2 linked regions of the Homo sapiens genome follow. The protein of the gene in region 1 purifies or fractionates together with the protein of each later gene. This does not show direct contact. Each region holds a gene or a part of one and is shown in the gene's direction. Other genes may lie near its edges.

Region 1 (4,284 bases):
GCTCTGCACTCTGGGGGTCCCTCCTGCCCTGCCCCTGGCAAGGACCTTTGCCTTTGAGTGGGGTGACTGGGCTCCAAGCCGATCTAGCACACAGTAGGCCGAAGGCACAGGGGCCCCACCCAGTCTCCTTCCTGGCCCAGGCCCTGGGGGATTCAGGTCCCTGGGTACTCGGGAAGGGACAGCACAGCCTGGGCAGGTCCCCAGTGGCAAGACCAGGTCTGACCTTTTCTGGGATCTGTGGCCCATCAGGTGAGGCCTGAGGTCAGCCAGGAAGGAAGCGGGCAGGGCTGAACCAGGGCTGAAACCAGGACCCAGGAAGGGACAGCCTAGTGCCCAGGGAAGGGGCAGGTGGGGCAGGTGGCAGTTGAGTTTTACAGACCTTCTTTGATGACAAGTGGGGGAAAGAGCCAAGGCACGCCCCAGTGGCTGTGGGAGCCACCGCCTCCTCCCCTGTAATGGGCACCTCGAGGACCGACAGGCGCAGGGGCCAGGCACCAAGGGTCCCTCTCCAACCTGGCCTTTTGTTTCCACCCCTTGCTCTCAGGCACCCACCCACGGCCCTTCCTGGTATCTGGACCAGACCAGGTGGGTCTCAGCCCCACCTCAAGTGAGACTTCAGGAAGAACTTCCAGAGGAAACTGGAGGATGGCAGTGGGATGGACTGTGGGGAGGTCATTTGCAAACAAGGCAGCTTATGCCTGTGCCCTGGGCCTTCCAAAGTCCACCTGTAGGCTGCATCTTCCGGAAGGCCCACCCTGTAGCCTGGAAGGCACCTGGCTACAGTGATCTCTCTGCTGTGCAGGTGTCCCCTCCCCCAGGGCACCTTGCAGGGCCTTAGGGTGATATGGGGGCTTTCTGGGCCCCTGCCCACCTTAAAACTGATCAAGGTGGGAGGGTGGGGTGGGAGGCCACAGGGATGCCCCTGCTGCTTGACCTTGATGGGACCTTGACCCCTTGCTTTCCCCATATGCTGTTGGGCATGACTGCCCACAGGCCTGGTGGGCGTTTGTGAAGGGCTGGAGTCGGGGGTAGGGGGAGCTTATGGCTGCTGGGCACAGGCGTGGCAGGGCTGTGTGCCTGGCTTCCCTTTCCCCTAACCCCATCAGGCCCGGGCTGGCCGCCCACTTCTGTTCACCACAGAGCAGGGTTTCCCTGGGGACCAGTGGACTGGCCCAGCCCCACACCGCCCCCCAGCCCCTCCTGGCCACAGCTTGAGCTGGGAGGAGGGTGGAGGCTGGGCCGCCTCCTGGACCCCTGCCCTCCCTGCCCGGCCTTCCAAGGCCCGGCAGCCTCAGTCCACTGCTGGGCCTGGAACACGGAGCAGTGGCTGCCCTGCGAGGAGGTGGGTGTCCGGAGTGCTAGCCAGGGTGGGGCTGGGCTAGGGGGAGCCTGATGTCACCCCCATTGTAGGAGGGAGAAGACCAAGGATGAGAAGGGCTTTGGCTTCCCCAAGGTGACCCCCTCTTTGAGCCTAGGCATAGTGGTCTCCCGGGAGAATGGAGGGTCCCAGAGCTCTCAGGCTGTGGGATTTGGAGAGGGGAAGGGGGGCACGAGGAGGCAGTAGAAATCAGGGAGGATTTCCTGGGCAAGGCAGCCGCGGGGCTGGACGATGGGCGGCCGAGGTTCGGGCAGAGGAACTCCACTGGAGGAGTGAGGGAGCTGAGCTTGGAGGGCTTCAAAGGGGAGGTGACCTCCAGGGCCCCACGCTCTGGGATCAGGCTCACGCCATGGTTCCCAGCTCAAATGTAAGACTCTTTCCGAAGCTCCCACTGTCTCTCTCCGTCCCTCTGTGTCTCTACCTGCCCACACGCCCCGGTCCTGATGGCTCCAGTCTCCCCTGCAGGTCCTAGAGCAGCTCCAGCAGGATGGCGGCTCCAGCGTCTCTAAGGCCTGCAGGGGGTCCAGCCCCATGGGGGGCGCCCTAGGCCTCCGACAGCTCCCCATCTGTGCTCCTGCCTGCCGGCCATCCTCAGGCCACTCGCCATGGGCGGCTGCTTCTCCAAACCCAAACCAGGTACCTCCTGTCTTCTTGTCTCCATCCTTTCTCCTCCCTCCCCGCCTCCTCCTCCCCCGTCTCCCCCCCCTCCCCCTCTGCACTCGGTAGGCCTCCGAAGTAGGTCAGGCTATCCAAGAACCCGCTCGGAATGTTAATACGCTGCCGCCAGGAGGGGGTAGGGGGCCTGGAGCAGTTCCCCCAGCTGGCCCCTGCTCCAGTGGGTGCCCCTTTTTCTTTGGGGCTTTGAGTGTTGGTGGTGGGAATAACAGCAGGACCCTTCTTGGAAAAGGAAAGTCAGGGTTCCTCCTGTTGCAGGGTTGGGGAAGGGGCTATGCCCCCAGGGCCAGGGAAGGGGGGAGCTGGGGACACGCTCAGCCACTCTGTGACCTAGGGCATGCAAGTTACCCCTCTGAGCCTCTGTTTTTCTCTCTGCAAAAGAGAGGGCCTGGCCACCCTGACCTCTTAGAGTTGCTGTGAGGGTGTAGTGGGCAGATCCTGGCTCTCTTTGCCTCCTCTGATCCCCTGTGTGGTCTCGGGCTGCCTTCTTGGCCTTTCTGGGCACACTTCCCCATTTATACAGGAAATCACCATCCAACCTAGCCTGAGCTACTCCAGCCAGAAGTGGGAGTGTCCTGGGGTGCTAGGGGAGGCCTGGGTCTTTTCTCCACTAAAGACTCATGTCTGCGGAGCTCTCCCTCTGGCCCCCCACTTTCCCTCTTCTCTCCTCACAACACCTGGGGAGGCAGGAGTGTGCAGCTTTGTCACAGGTGGAGAAACTGAGGCTTAGAGAGACCTCAAGAGCGCAGCCAGTGCTCCACTCAACCTGCCAGGCCACGCTGCCCCAGCCAGCTCACCCCAGCCAGCTCACCCCAGCCAGCTCACCCCAGCTCCCCTTACCTGATACCCATCAGCTCCGTTACCTTGGAACTTGTGAGGCTTTTCTCCCTTTCCTGGGTCTAAGGGAGAACTTGGGCGAGGGAGGAGGGCTGTGATGACCCACCAGGCAGAGGGACCCACTTGCCTCTGCTCCAAGAAGCCACTCTTCCTCCCCCGCTCCTGTGCTGTGGACACCTAGGCCTGGGCTGGATCCCTCTCTGCCTCAAAATGTGCCTTGGGCAGATGACGTCCATTGTCTCCCCCTAGCAGTGGGTGGGATGATGCCAGCTGGCCTCATACCAGGCGTCTGTGGCACCGCTGGGCTGGCAGGAGGCCCTGGCAGAAGATGCCACCTGCAGGTTCTTTTAAAGGACCCCAAATGGCTGGCCTGCCTGGGACCCGTGGCCCCAGGACTTCCAGTGTCGGGGGTGGCCACCCTCACCAAAGGCAGTCCTAAGAACTTAGGCAAATCCAGCCCTGCCCCTTTCTGGCTGTGTGGCCTTGGGCAGGTGATTTCCCCTCTCTGAGCCTCTGCATCCTCATTGTAAAGTGGGGCTGTTGTGCCTAGCATGAGGGCCTGGCACACCAGAAGCACTTGCGGAATTTTTTTTTTTTGAGACAGAGTTCACTCCTTCTCCCATGCTGGAGTGCAGTGGCGTGATCTCGGCTCACTGCAAGCTCCGCCTCCCAGGTTCATGCCATTCTCCTGCCTCAGCCTCCCAAGTAGCTGGAACTACAGGCGCCCGCCACCACGCCCAGCTATTTTTTTGTATTTTTAGTAGAGACGGGGTTTCACCGTGTTAGCCAGGATGGTCTCTATCTCCTGACCTTGTGATCCGCCCATCTCGGCCTCCCAAGGAATATTATTTGTTATCCCTTTTCTGAGCTGGGCTCTGTGCTGCCAGGCCTCCCCTGTGGGGCTGTAGCCAGAGGCTCAGGCCCCAGGTGCCCATGCTGGGCAGGTCAGGCATGAGGCTCAGGGAATTTCCAGATATGGGAGTGACAGCATTTGGGGCCTGAGGGTTCAGCTGGGGTCTTAAGGGGCCACAAAGAGACTAGATCAAGCAGAAGACCTCTGTGCAAATCCTTCACTTTCTATCTTGCTCCACTCGATTCTGTGGCTCCGTGTGCATCAGCACCTGCTTCCTGGGTTCCCTCTGTGCTCCTGTGTGTCCTGTCTGAGTAGTTGATAAGAAGGTATCAGACCAGTCCCTCACCTAGCTCAGAGCTAGGAGGAAGTGCAGCTCTCTTAGCATCTGTTCACCTGCCTTTTATTAGGCCATAACTGATACCTAAAGGCTTTCCATCCTCACCATGGCTGCTAGGAGGCTCAGAGCTAACTGGTAAAACACTGCTGCCCAACTCCATCTATTGAGCTTCTACTCTGGGTTACATACAGTATTTCCTTCAGC
Region 2 (3,656 bases), on another chromosome or scaffold:
TGAACATTCCTGTACAAGTTTTTGTGTGTGCAGATGCCGCCATTTCTCTTGGTCTATACCTAGGAGTAGAATTACTAGGTCATATGGTAATGATGTTTAAGCTTTTGGGGAACTGCCAGACTGTTTTCCAAAGCAGCTGTACCATTTTACATGACAATGATTTTAATTGACATCTTAATTGAAGGATTTAGAAAACAATGTTAAGATAAAAAAAGAAGGTGGCCGCCTGGAGCTGAGGTGGGCTCCCAGTGTGGGTCTGGGGAGGTGGAGCAGTGGGAGACCGTGCCAGTCCTCTGATTGGCTGGGAGAGAAGACGGCAAGTCCCAGGTCATCGCAGGGCGGGGAGCCAGGGAGTCACCAGCTCCAGGCTCTGCGTGGTGGTGCCCAGCGGAGGGGCCGGCTGAGATTCAGCCTGTACTCCCCGCCCCAACTGCATACCCAGGAAGCTGTGGGCAGGCGAAGGAGGTGCCTGGCATTGGCCTTTACACAGCCTCACAGTCATTGAGCAGTGAGGAATAACGTACGCAGTTCACAGAGGGGAAAACCAGGCTTCGGAGAGAAGGGCCTGCCCCACTTAGGAAGTGCGTGGGGCACCTGGTTTCTCCAAATCAGAGAGCTGCTGGTGTCAGGCAGCACTAGGCCAAGACCCGAGGCAGAATCAGGGCTGAGCTGCCTTCGCGTGTGCGTGTGTGTGTTTCCTATCTGACCGTTGCCTCTGTCCCACCAGCCCCAGGCCATTTACTGCAAGGATGTTCTGGACATTGAACAGTTCTCTACGGTCAAGGGCGTGGAGCTGGAGCCTACCGACCAGGACTTCTACCAGAAGTTTGCCACAGGCAGTGTGCCCATCCCCTGGCAGAACGAGGTGGGGGCCTGCCCTGCTGGTGGGGTGGGCTCCAGGAGGCTGCCCTGGGGACAGCTGTCACAGCCGCCTGCTCCTCAGCAGATGGTGGAGACCGAGTGCTTCCAAGAGCTGAATGTCTTTGGGCTGGATGGCTCAGTTCCCCCAGACCTGGACTGGAAGGGCCAGCCACCTGCACCTCCTAAAAAGGGACTGCTGCAGAGACTCTTCAGTCGCCAAGTAAGCCCCAGCAGCGGCCTACCTGGGCCCCTAACCTGGCTCCAGGGGACGGTGGGTGGGAGGCAGAGCCGGTGCCCGCATGCGCTGGGAGTGGGCGTCCTCCAGTCCTGTTGTGGTGCCCAGGGTCTCTGGCCTCATTCCCGCCTGTCCCCCACCCCTGGCTGGGCTCATGGCCTCTTTTCTCTTTCCAGAGGTGAGCAGTGTGGGCTCCCCGTGGGTTGGCCTTGCTGCCTGGCCTCGGGGAGCCACGGGCAGCCCTTCCATGGCAAAGGCAAGATGTGGGAGAAAGAAGTCTGGTGCCCGCCCCACTCCCCCTGCCCACTGCTTTGATCCCCTGCACCCTGGCCCCTTCGAGCTGCCAGCTTTGCTTCGCTTGTCTCCCCGTGCCCTGTCTCTGCCAGCCCCAGGGGAGAGGGCTGGGCAGAGGCCTTGCCCTGGCAGACCGTGGGATCTACCCAGCCCCCTTACTTCAGTCTGTTGCCGGCAGCCTCTGCAATGACGCCCACCCACGTGTGGCCTGAGCTGCTGCTCCAGGCTCCTTGTGGAGAGGCCCCTCCCCAGAGTGCACCCCTCAGGCAGCTCCTGGCCTGCCCTGGCAGGGTCGGCCCCATGTGACGTCCCTCGTGGTTAATGGCACCTGCTCTGCCTCTCTCCCTCCCTCCGTGTCTTCCCCGTCCCTCCAGGATTGCTGTGGAAACTGCAGCGACAGCGAGGAAGAGCTCCCCACCCGCCTCTAGCCCCCAGCCCGAGGCCCCCACCAGCAGTTGGCGGTAGCAGCTACTCCGAGCGCCGTTTACAGTTTTGCACAGTGATCTTCCCCATTGTCCACTCAAGTCGTGGCCTGGGGAACACAGACGGAGCTGTCCCCAGTGTCCTCCGTCCCTCAGCCCCTGGCCTGGCTGAGTTTGGCAGGGCCTGGGCCATCCCTGGGACAAAGGTGCGTCCCTTCAGCTCTTCTCCGTGGAGCTCGGGGCTTTCTGTATTTATGTATTTGTACGAATGTATATAGCGACCAGAGCATTCTTAATTCCCGCCGCAGACCTGGCGCCCCCGCCTTGGCTCCTGGGGGCAGCCAGCCCTGGCTGGGAGAGCGGGAGCTGGCAGAGGAGCCACTGCCAAACTCAAGGCTCCTCTGGCCCAGCTTGGATGGCTGAGGGTGGTCACACCCCTGAGCCTTCAGCACTGTGCTGGCCACCCCGGCCTCTGAGTAAGACTCGTGCCTCCCCCTGCTGCCCTGGGCTCAGGCTGCTACCCTCTGGGGCCCAAAGCTGTCCCTTCTCAGTGCTTGTCAGCGCTGGGTCTGGGGCCTCTGTATGCCCTAGGCCTGTGCCAAAGTGGCCAGAGATTGGGCTGCCTGTGATACCCATCAGCCCACTGCCCCGGCCGGCCCAGATAGGTCTGCCTCTGCCTTCCAGCTCCCACAGCCTGGTCCCTGATACTGGGCTCTGTCCTGCAGACACCTCTTTCAGAAACGCCCAAGCCCAGCCCCTAGGAGGGGGTGGGGCATCCCTGGTCAACCCTCAAACATTCCGGACTCCCCTCATAACAATAGACACATGTGCCCAGCAATAATCCGCCCCTTCCTGTGTGCGCCTGTGGGGTGCGTGCGCGCGCGTGTGTACCTGTGTGGGTGAAGGGGATAGGGCGAGGCTGTGCCTGTGCCCCAGGTCCCAGCCCTGGCCCTTCCCAGACTGTGATGGCCATCCTGGTCCCAGTGTTAGGGTAGCATGGGATTACAGGGCCCTGTTTTTTCCATATTTAAAGCCAATTTTTATTACTCGTTTTGTCCAACGTAAGCTGCCACATGTCTCTGTGTGAATAGTCCGAGCACAAACCTGGCTAGCCGCCCCTGCCTGCCTCTTTCTTGCTTCCGGTGCTCCAGGGGTCTTCCTGCTCCCCTGGCCCAGCTGGAAGCGGGAAGGGATTGGAGGTGGGCCTGGAGGGAAGCAGGGTGTGCCCTTCCGAGGCCCAGGAGCCCCCAGGGCTGACTCTGAACTAGCCTCTCCAGACAGCCAGGCTTTGGTAGCCTTTGGGCTCACCCAGTGGGTTTCCCAACTTCCTAAATGGGATGGGGCCTAAGGAAAGAAGCCTTGGGTACCCACTGGGATGTGGGTCTGTTTCTGACTGCTGGTAAGGCGGGCCCCGTTGGTGTCCTCCCCTCCAAGGCTAAGGTGGCCTGGCTGCCTAAATGTGGACGTAAGAGTAGGGTGGGAGCTGTGTAAGGAATGTCTGCCCCAGGCCTGCGTTACCTGGACGCCAGCCATGTACGGGCCCCGGGCTGAGGCACGTGCATCATATCCACCCCTCTGTTTTGCCCTTGACACATTATGGGCAAAGACCTAGACAGTGGGTGACGCTGGCAGATAGGCTGTGGCCAGTGTGGGAGAGTTCTCTGAAGACGGTGGTTGAGCCGGCCTCGAAGTGGACATTCACCTGGGAGGAAGGGGGACTGGGAGGCACTCAAGGGGAGCTTCCTGCCTGGGCTCTGGGGCTGAGAGCTTGTTGCCTACCAGTCTGTCCCAGATCTGGCAACCCCATCACTGCTCTATAGACTCCCAGTGTCCCCAGCTCCCTG

The links.
Region 2: the proteins of AIFM3 (region 1) and GRK6 purify together in Homo sapiens (affinity purification with mass spectrometry; one large-scale study listed by BioGRID and IntAct). This does not show direct contact.

The regions. Positions count from the first base shown.
Region 1 is NC_000022.11:20,965,962-20,970,245, forward strand, and holds the start of AIFM3 (apoptosis-inducing factor 3), read left to right. Parts: upstream 1-1,293; 5' UTR 1,294-1,342; intron 1,343-1,843; 5' UTR 1,844-1,983; coding exon 1,984-2,014; intron 2,015-4,284. UniProt on the Homo sapiens protein: Induces apoptosis through a caspase dependent pathway. Reduces mitochondrial membrane potential.
Region 2 is NC_000005.10:177,439,973-177,443,628, forward strand, and holds the end of GRK6 (G protein-coupled receptor kinase 6), read left to right. Parts: exon of another isoform or gene 1-59; intron 60-727; coding exon 728-865; intron 866-946; coding exon 947-1,081; intron 1,082-1,272; coding exon of another isoform or gene 1,273-1,278; exon of another isoform or gene 1,279-1,381; intron 1,382-1,762; coding exon of another isoform or gene 1,763-1,764; coding exon 1,765-1,818; coding exon of another isoform or gene 1,819-1,855; 3' UTR 1,856-2,919; downstream 2,920-3,656.